Linked DNA regions of Homo sapiens: region 2 is linked to region 1. The links come from fine-mapping of genetic effects on gene expression. A gene starts in region 1. The other region holds a variant in brackets. All regions are shown on one strand. Distances are from middle to middle. Region 1 holds the start of HBS1L (HBS1 like translational GTPase). Region 2 overlaps HBS1L (HBS1 like translational GTPase).

The links. PIP is the estimated chance that this variant, and not a neighbour inherited with it, causes the effect. A credible set is the group of variants that fine-mapping cannot tell apart.
Region 2: its variant is the best candidate, but not a certain one, in a credible set for the expression of HBS1L in whole blood (INTERVAL, PIP 0.85).

The regions. Positions count from the first base shown.
Region 1 is chr6:135,051,660-135,056,912 of GRCh38, forward strand. HBS1L (HBS1 like translational GTPase) reads right to left here and starts at 3,163. Exons shown (of 18, transcript NM_006620.4): 1 at 2,990-3,163. The coding sequence starts at 3,032. It overlaps LOC124901405 (a long non-coding RNA gene), which reads left to right and starts at 3,234. Exons shown (of 2, transcript XR_007059775.1): 1 at 3,234-3,827. RefSeq lists an enhancer at 3,322-3,371.
Region 2 is chr6:134,987,957-134,993,209 of GRCh38, forward strand. The region is part of intron 8 of HBS1L (HBS1 like translational GTPase); the gene reads right to left. Among named protein-coding and RNA genes, the nearest start is that of MIR3662, 11 kb to the left of the region's middle. The variant G/GGAGAAAT (reference allele first, on the strand shown) is at 3,141.

The sequences.
Region 1 (5,253 bases):
ACTACATGAGACTATCAGCTTCTTCAGGGCAAGACTTGGTTTAGCCAACTACCTGGCACATATGGGGCACTAGATTAATATTTGTTTTATTATAAATTAATGAATCAAACTAATTACAACTAAAAACCCACAAAGAACATAAATATATTTACATAAATTTCATTTGACAAACACTAACACCATGCCAGGGAGTAGTTGAGACAACTGTGGTATAACAGTGAACACATTTCCAGTTATCACTGCACCTAAAATCTGACAAGGAATACACACAAGATAATGGGCAATTACAAAACCATGTGACAAGTGCCTGATGTGAGAAACACAGAGCAATTTGGGAACACACACATGAATGACAAAACTAGAACCGGGAGTGGGGCAGCTAGGGAAAGATCCCCATTAATATAATATCCAAACCAATTCCAAAGGATAGAGTTAGCTAGTTTCTGAGGGTATTCATGCAGCAGGAACAGCATGCTCAAAGGCTGAGACCAAATGCTTACAGCAAAGAAAAATTAGATAAATGCTACTATTGGGCAAAAACATATATGATTAAATAAATTATTAGATCACAATCCCAAGTTAATAAAAATTTATTTGCAAATAAACAAGGGGCCATTCACAAACAAAGTATTTTTAGATATTGAAGACAACAATAGGCCAGGCATCGTGGCTCACACCTGTAATTCCAGTACTTTGGGAAGCCGAGGAGGGAGGATCTCGCTTGGGCAACACAGCCGGATGCTGTCTCTACTAAAATAAAAAATTAACCGGGCATGGGGGCACATGCCTGTAGACCTAGCTACTCGGGAGGCTGAGGCACGAGGATTGCTTGAGCCCAGGAGTTGGAGGTTACAGAGAGCTATGATCATGCCACTGCACTCGCACTCCAGCTTGGCCAACCAACAAAGTGCGATCCTGTCTCTTAAAAAAAAAAAAAAAAGAAAAAAAACTCTTTTTTACTAGGTCAGTTTGTCAATGCTGAAGTTGACCCTAAAGTGCCACAACATATAAAGATGAAGAGAATTCTTTCCTGCAATCTTCATAGTTTGTTTCCTCAATCAACAAAATTATGAAATATTTACCACATGTAAAGAACATTGTGCCAGCTACTTAAAGTATGGATTTTGCCTTCCTGAGACTTTTAAATCAGTGACTGAGGCAGTCATGTAAAGTATTACATAAATTACAGAGAAAAACAAAGTGGGAGTTAAGTAGCGGAACCAGTAGGTTTTAGAACACAAACTCTCTCTAATGAGGTTATATTTCTTAACAGAATTTTTAAATTATTATTCTGAGAATTCAAGAGAAAGCCTAACTGGGAAGAAGAGAAATAAACTGGACCTTAATGAGTACAACTTTTATAAACAAGAAAAGGGGATGAACCTCCTTAATGTTACAGGAACAGCTTGGTTATGATGTCACCAATTGTTTCAAAGAAGCATGACAACATGACAACCTAACCTCAAGAAGCCAAGGTGCTCCCTGAGGCCAACCACCTCTCCTCCATGAAGCATTCCTTAACGTAGAAATCCTGCTTAAATTCCCCCCAATCCATTCTGAATTAAGTGTTCTCATCTGTGTATCCCTCCCATAGCGTTTTCTCAGTACCTTTTGTAGCATTTTTCATACTCTAATAATCTGTAACTCGTATAATCTTCTCCTTTTAGACCACCCTCAAATATCTTACTTTCAGTCCTCAAAGCTTAGAACAGTACTCTAAGCACTAACTTAATGGTGGTTGAGGAAATGATAAACAACTATTAAAGAAATGAATGAATAATAAATAGGCCTATTCATGTACTTTATATTTGCAAAAATCTCTCTCAATCTAAAGTCATTTCTTAGGTGACAATGGTCCACATGCAATACCATCCACTGCAATATTTATTTAAAAGGGCCTCCATTCTAAAGTAACCACCAGAAAATTCACATGTTCTAGACGGACTGAGGTCACAGGTTCCAAATGGAGAACAGGGTGTTAGCTGCCCTCACTCTAGTTAAAGCATACTGATGTTCTATAATAATCTACTGGGGTGCCAATGACAATCACCAACATATTAAGCACTACATGTTCTGCACTTCGTAAAGCATAGTTCTTTATTCTTCTCCTGCATTAGTTCATTTTTGTTTATATTTTTAGTTTATGTGATGCTTGGTGATGCCTATAGTTATCTACTGCATGAAGAGGGATGTGCTCCTCCTAAAAATAATTCTAACTCCTGTTAACTCCTACAGAACATTCATACAGACATTTTTATTTCATTTTTTAATATCAAAAAGTCCTTTCCTATACACTCTTTCCTCTAGTACTGCCGTTTATTTACATTTCAAAATACATTTATATCAAGCATTACCAGCCAAGAACTAAGTATAAACTTCAAGATCCATCTGATCGACTCATTCTTTGGGCCTTTTTAACATGTGTCTTTTCTACCGTCTCCTAAGTTTCCACTTTGAAATTCGTTGAAAAATAAATTAGCGCAAACTGATTCTGCACTAGGTATGTATGGACATACACAAAAGGTTTACCATGTAAATCTAACACAGGTACACGTCCGTTGAATGTATTAAGTCAATCTGTGTTTTACAAATAAGCAACGTTTCATGGACATTTCTCAAAGGGGATCTGGGAGAGAGGAGCTAGAAGCAGGCACGTTAGTGCCCAACATGGGAGGAAACAATGGAAGAGGTGATAATGCTTACGTGCCTAAATATCACCGGATCTCAACCTCACCAATATCCTACCCATATGACGCTATGCAGCACCTCCCCCTCCCCAAATAAAATCAACCCCAGAGGGCAGAAATCATGACTTAAAAACGACGGCATTTGAAAGCACTAGAAGGCCTGTTATATTCCCCAACTGGGGCTCTCCCAATCCCGACAGGGCAACACTGACGAGAAACTCACAGATTGAAGTGGATGCCAACGGGCTAGGATCCCAGCTGTAGCCGGGAAAAGAACGTCCCGGCATGACCCTGCCACCTACCTTCATCGTAGTTATAGCCTCGAACATTCCGATGCCGGGCCATGACGGCGGAGAGGGCGTTTGCCACAGCCCCTTAACTCCTTCCAAAACACTCCGCTTAGATACTGATAAGGCGCCAACTGCAGCCTGGAGAACCCCTATGCGCCATCTTGGCTTCCCGCAGGCCTCTGCGCCGAGCGCCTGCGCAAGCGCGACGTCTTAGCTGTGCACCGCGCGACGGCAATGCCTCAGGGTCACTGTCCGCCTCCCTGAGGGCGCATGCGCACTGCTGTGCATGGCGGGACGAGGGGAGGGAGCGTTTGGGAGTGGCCCCACCCAAAGGTTGGGCGACGGAGGGGGATGGGGAAATCCGCCGCCTAGAATTGACTGGTTTGGACTAAATGTTGCAAGCGGGGAACCTTGAGCTACCTACGCCAGCGTTCTGGATTATTTTCCAAATTTGGTTCCTGATAATCTGAGAAAGCTATGCGCTCAGTAAGAGCAGGGACCTTGTTTTATCAAACTTTGATCTTTCATTAAGCACACAGTGGGCATTCAACAAACTTGTGTAAACTTGGAATCAGATTTAGCCCAGGCCGGTGCGGTGGCTCCTTCCTGTAATCCCAGCACTTTGGGAAGCCTAGGAGGGCGGATCGCTTGAACTCAGGTGTTCGAGACCAGCCTGAGCAACATAGCGAGGCTCCGTCTCTACAAAAAATACAAACACTAGCCGGCCCTGTGGTGCAGACCTGTAGTCCCAGCTACTGAAGAGGCTGAGGTGGGAGGATCCCCTGAGCCCAGGCGGTCGAGGCTGCAGTGAGCTGAGATCGGGCCTCTCCATTCCAGCCCGGGCGACAAAGTGAGTGAGACCTTATCTCAAAAAAAAAAAGAGTCCAAGCTTTAGAGAAGGAAATAAGGCTATTTTTAAACGGGTATATATTATTAAATTGAGACCCTGGCTATATTAGGTCACCCTGCATTCATATAATTTACGACTTCATGTATTCACTCCGTTCGGCATTACTATCCCTAGTAAACAGCGATTTGCCCTTAGCTATGTAAACGATTTTAGCTATATAGACGATATTTATCAGCATCATAAAGAAGGATTCACTGAACATTCATTGAAGACATAATTGTGTGTAACATTGCGAGTATTAAATATAGCTTTTTAGACATAGCACTGGCCTTAGGTGGTAATGCTGAATGTTGTTGATGCATGAATCTATAACCTGCTATTAAATGTCCTCATTTCTCAGAACATAAAGTTAATAATGCTATATAAGAAACCAACCTCATTATACTGAACACCACTTCAGTTTTAGCTTGTGTTTTTGAAATGATGATACTTCACATCAAAGGCAAATGTTGAGTTCTAGAGATAATTAAAAGCTTCCTCAGCTTTTTGCTATGCACAATAGAAAGAAATAAGAGTAATCCAAATTTAGTTTATATTTGTAAGTGGCTTGGAACGTAATTTATTCATGCATTTGAATGTGTTTGACTACAAAAATAGTTGTTTAATGTGGCTCCAAAATAAAAGTTTACAGAAAAATAGAGATAGTTGCTAATGTTACATGGCTTAAGTGTTTTTATTATTTTACACCCTTAGGTAATTTTTATTTTGCAGCCTGTTTCTTTGTAAAAAGGAGATAGAGACACTAACTCGCGAGCTGTGAATAATGTATCCGTATAAGAGGATTTATCACAGATCATAGTAGGTGCTTAAAAATATTGTGTTATTGGCCGGGCGCGGTGGCTGACTCCTGTGATCCCAACACTTTGGGAGGCTGAAGCAGGCGGATCATGAGGTCAAGAGATCAAGACCATTCTGGCCAACATGGTGAAACTCCCTGTCTACTAAAAATACAAAAATTAGCTAGGCATGGTGGCGCGTGCCTATAGTCCTAGCTACTCGGGAGGCTGAGGCAGGAGAATCGCTTGAACCCGGGAGGCAGAGGTTGCAGTGAGCTAAGATTGTGCCACTGCACTCCAGCCTGGAGACAGAGTGAGACTCTGCACCCCCCCAAAAAAATTGTGTTATTAAAATACAAATGGCAGCTTCCACTCCACTGTAATTGTCAATTACAAGCTTAACTACAACTCACTGAGGTATGAAGTGAATGAGTTATAGACCACATAAGCAAAGTACTACAGGAACAATGAATAAGAAAACGTTACTTCTGTCAGATAATATATAATTTGCCCTTAGGTCGTCAATAACGCACTCCTTTAAAACTCTAAATATTGCACAGCATCTACTGCATCTCAAACAGTAGAGCCTC
Region 2 (5,253 bases), 64 kb before region 1:
AATAAAAGTCACCAAAAATAATGACACAAAGAACAATAAAAAAGTCCACACTTGATTATATAAGAATTAAAATATATAAGCAAAGGAGGAAAAATATAAACAAAATTAAAACATAAACAAACAGCAACCAGGCACAGTGGCTCACGCCTATAATCCCAGCACTTTGGGAGGTCAAGGCAGGCAGATCACCTGAGGTCAGGAGTTCGAGACCAGCCTGGCCAATATGGTGAAACCCCATCTCTGCAAAAAATACAAAAATTAGCCGGGTGTGGTGGTGCACACCTGTATCCCAGCTACTTGGGAGGCTAAGGTATGAGGATCACTAGAACCTGAGAGGCAGAGGTTGCAGTGAGTCGAGATCGCCCCACTACACTCCAGCCTAGGTGACAGAACAAGACTGTCTCAAAAAAACAAAAAACAGTAGACAGGGAGGGACAAACATTTGTAACATATAAAGTAAAGGTTATAATCTCTATAGAATCTTTACCAAAAAAAAAAAACATAAAAAACCCCAAAACAAAGCAAGAAGACATAGCTTTAAAAGATACAAGCAAGCTATTTGCTAAAGAAATATAAATGGTCAACATGAAAAAAATTCAAATTCAGTAGAAACTAAAATTTTTTAAAAGTAAAATAAAAACACATTGACATATTCCCTCTCTCCCATTTTTACAAATCACATTGTTAAAGATTTGAAAGACAAAATTATTTGCTGTAGGCAAGGATACGGTGAGAAGCGCATCCTCAAATATTGCTCATGGGACTGTAGGTGCACCACCTTCCAGGGGGTATTTTCACAAAAAGTATCAAGAACTTAAAAATTACACATATTTTACTTCCCATCAATTCCACCTCTAGGGATTTATCCCAGAGAAATAAGTATAGATCTACAAAGATATTCATCAGAGTACTGTTTATAATGAAGAAAAACAGCAAATATATGAATTATCAAAAAGCAGCATATTCATCCTCTACAGCTATTGAAAAAAAAGCCTTGTATAACAAAGTTTTCTAACCTGTGTGGACCATCTTGTGAATCAGATAGAAAGACATTCCTTTCAGACTCAAATTACACACCCCACAAAAGAAGAAAGCTAACCTCAGCTTAGCTCAGTTTTTGTTAGCCTTATTGAAACTAACTTTACAGGTTCCCACTATTCTTTTGTGTTGATGCCACTTGCGTCATGTGGATGCAGCCTTTTAAAATGTGCAATAGACAGTTTGTGCAACCATAGAAGTTCTTCCTTTTCATTCTTATCAATTATTTCTGTCAATGCACTGTAGGGGCATTTTTTAAAGAACACTTTTATTTTCTCTTTTACAGCTTTTGCTTTGTATGCATACCTGTTTGTCATAGAAATCCACTTTTCTGAAATCCAGGAAACAAAGACTACACCTGGCATTCCCCTTTTTAGCTATCTCGGGCTGTTACATGATAATCACTATCTCTCCAGGGTCCTCTTATATTCCATCCACATCATTAAGTTCTCCTGCTTTCTGGTCAGAACAGAGTCCACAACAGCTTGTTTCTTTGTTGCTTCCCCAATGACCCTTTACTTCTGTGCTCTCCAGTTTTTAAAGAATTTCAGATATAATATATAATCCTCACCATAATGGAAAATAAATGGTCATAAAATATGTCAAGAATGTCTCAGATACTTTCTTACAACAGAACATTACGATTTAAATTGAAGTACTAACCATACACTTTGGTGGGATAATTTACACTATTCCTGTTTCCTTTTACTCGTACCTAAATACTCCTGCTTTGTCTCTACTCTTAAGTGCCATCTTCACTTCCAATCCCTCATATTTTATAAAACTGAACATTAATTTCCTCAATGAGATCCAGCTCTTTTGATCAAGGATTCTTAGATTAGAATAAGCATACAAACTGAAGCAATCAATTTGAATATTGGCTCTTTCATGCATACCTGTAGTCAATAACTGTTCTCCACACCTCAGGCAAGTTGTCTAACCTCTCTGTGTTACCAACTTACTTACTTCACAGAAACCCTAGGGAGTAAATATAGTTTATATAAAACATCCAGACCAGAACTTCCAAGTCCTAGGCTCAGTAATTGAAAATCTTTTTCTCATTAGGTTTTCATAATAACTGTAAAATTATATTTACCTTCTTAGGTTAAAATGTGAAATTCATTGAATTGGTATTAAGATACCTAAGGCCACAAATGTTCTACCTAATCTTCCTATTACTATCTCCAAAAAATTACTGGGAAATTTCTCTATTAATATTATTTCTAGGCAATAGCTCTTGTCTTTGGGAGTCCAAATGCCTACTACGCATTCTCAAGGAAGCCTCTGATGATCAAGCAGAATAAAGTGATCTCTCTCCACAATGTATATCTTCTCTGTTCTTGCAGCGCAACTGTTAGTCTTTCCACTTCACATCTTGTCTTCTATACTGTGATTTCCCTGAGGTGAGGCAGCATGCCTTGTATGCTTCCTTGTGTCCCCAAAGCCCACTGCAATATTTTGCACACTCGGCAAGTTACTTAACATCTTTGAGTCTCTTTATCTCTTTGTTACATAATGGAATTCAATTAGATGATCTCTAAAATCCTTTCCCACCATAATTCCATAAAGAGTTTGAAATAAATGATTTTTGTTTTTTGAGGCAGGGTCTCACTCCCTTCCCTCACGGCTCACTGCAGCCTCAACTTCCTGAGCTCAGGTGATTCTCCCACTTCAGTTTCCTGAGTAAGTGAGGCTACAGGCACCTGCCACCACACTCAGCTAATTTTTTGTATTGTTAGTAGAGACAGGGTTTTGCCATGTTGCCCAGGCTGGTCTTGAACTCCTGGGTTGAAGCAATCTGCCCACCTCAGCCTCCCAAAGTGCTGGGATTACAGGCGTGAGCCTCCACACCTGGCCTGGAATAAACGATCTTTATAATAACTGTGGACTCTAAGGTCCTAGAATTCAGAAGTATTTTTTACTACAACTGCTTCTGGTGTTTGTCTCGCCCATTAAACTATCAGTGCTTTGTAGGCATTGCATTCCCACACTGCTACCCCAGTGCTTGCTACACAGCCAGTATTCAATAAGTAATCAATGAAAAAAAAAAAGAAAAAGACTCACAGACATACACACACACACACACACATATACACATATAA[G/GGAGAAAT]GAGAAATCAAAACTATATTGTATTCTTTGGTAAATGCAATGAGAAGTACAGTTTCCCTAAGTATCAGTGAGGGATTGGTTCCAGACCTCCCAACACCCATGGATACCAAAATCTATGAATGCTTAAGTCCCTTATACAAAACAGGGTAGCCTTTGCATATAGCCTACACACTTCCTCTTACACACTTTAAATTATCTCTAGATTATGTGTAATACCTAATACAATGCCTACACATCACTTCCTTTGCATGGATTCAACACAGTACTCAGTGTGTGGCAAATTCAAATTTTGCTTTTTGGAACTTTGTGGAATTTGTCCCCCCCAAATATTCCAATCCACAGTTGACTGAATCCGTAAATGCAAAATCCATGCACATGGAGGAATGACTGTATACTAATTTAAAATGGTGATAATATACACTTCCTAGAGTTGTTATAAAGATTATATTAAACTGAATGCATGTAATACCTAATACAGTATCTGGTCCACATTAGGTACTCAATTAATAGGGATAATTACTTTATTTCAATCTTTTATCACATTCAGTCCATGAATCTTGAATTAATATTCTAAAATTACATGTCAACTTTCTAAAATAGTATCAAAAAATTCTTATCTTCAAATATATTATAATGTATTCATACAATATCCTTTTTGGTTAACAAATGTTCATGTTAAAATTCTCTTTTTGGCTGGGCACAGTGGCTCATGCCTGTAATCCCAACACTTTGGGAGGCTGAGGTGGGGATTGCTTGAGCCCAGGATTTCAAGACCAGCATGGGCAATACAGTGAGATCCCATCTTTACAAAAAACTAAAAAATTAGCCAGGCATGGTGGCACATGCCTGCAGTCCCAGCTACTCAGGAGGCTGGGGTGAGAGGATCCCTTGAGCCCGGGAAGTTGTGGATGCAGTGACTGGTGACTGTGCCACTGCACTCCAGCCTGGGCTACAGAGTGAGACTCTGTCTCAAAAAATTAATATTTTAATGAGTAGATCCCAGAAAACGGGTAATTGCTTGAAGTCATGTTTTTGCCATGTAACAGAGTCAAGTTATTTTAACTCTTCATGTTTTCCAGTAATCATCCATTATGAAAGAAATCAATGTCCTATATATGCAGTGCTATTTTCATTGCTTTAATAATTTAAAGTTACGGTGATGCACAGCATAATGACGTTTTGGTCAACCATGGACCGCATACGTGATGGTGGTCCCATAAGATTATAATGGAGCTGAAAAACTCCCATTGCCTGGTGATGTCATAGTCGCCATAATGTCATAGCACCATGCATTACTCATGTATCTGTGATGATACTGGTATAAACAAATCTACTGCGCTGCCAATTGTATAAAAGAATATAGCATATGCAATTATGTATAGTACTTTATAATGATAATTATGATAGTGGTTTATGTACTTACTATTTTTCACTTCTGATGATCCTGATCCTGTGTAGGCCTAGGCTAATGTGCGTATTTGTGTCTTTGTTTTTCACCAAAAAAAGTTTAAAGTAAAAAATACATATTAAAAAAAGCTTATGGAATAAGACTATACAGAAAGAAAATATTTTCGTACAGCTGTACAACGTTTGTGCTTTAAGCTAAGTGTTATTATAAGAGAGTCAGAAAGTTAAAAAAAATTTAAATGTTTATAAAGTAAAAAAAGCTACAGTAAGCTAAGCTTAATTTACTATTAAAGAAAAACATATTTTTAAATAAATGTAGTGTCCCCTGAGTGTACAGTGTTTGTAAAGTATACAGTCGTGTCCTAGGCCTTCACATTCACTCACTGAATCACCCAGAGCAACTTCCAGTCCTGCGAGCTCCATTCATGGTAAGTGCCCTATACAGGTGTACCATTTTTTATCTTTTATGCCCTATTTTTACTGTACCTTTTCTATGATATGCTTAGATCAGTTTAGATACACAAATATTTACCACTGTGCCACAACTGCTTACAGTATTCAATACAGTAATATGTTATACATGTTTGTTGCCTTGGAACTATAGGTTCCATGTAGCCTAGGTGTATAAAAGATGTTACCATCCAGATTTGTGTAAGTAAACTCAAATATGTTCACAAATGATGAAACTGCCTAACAACTCACTTCT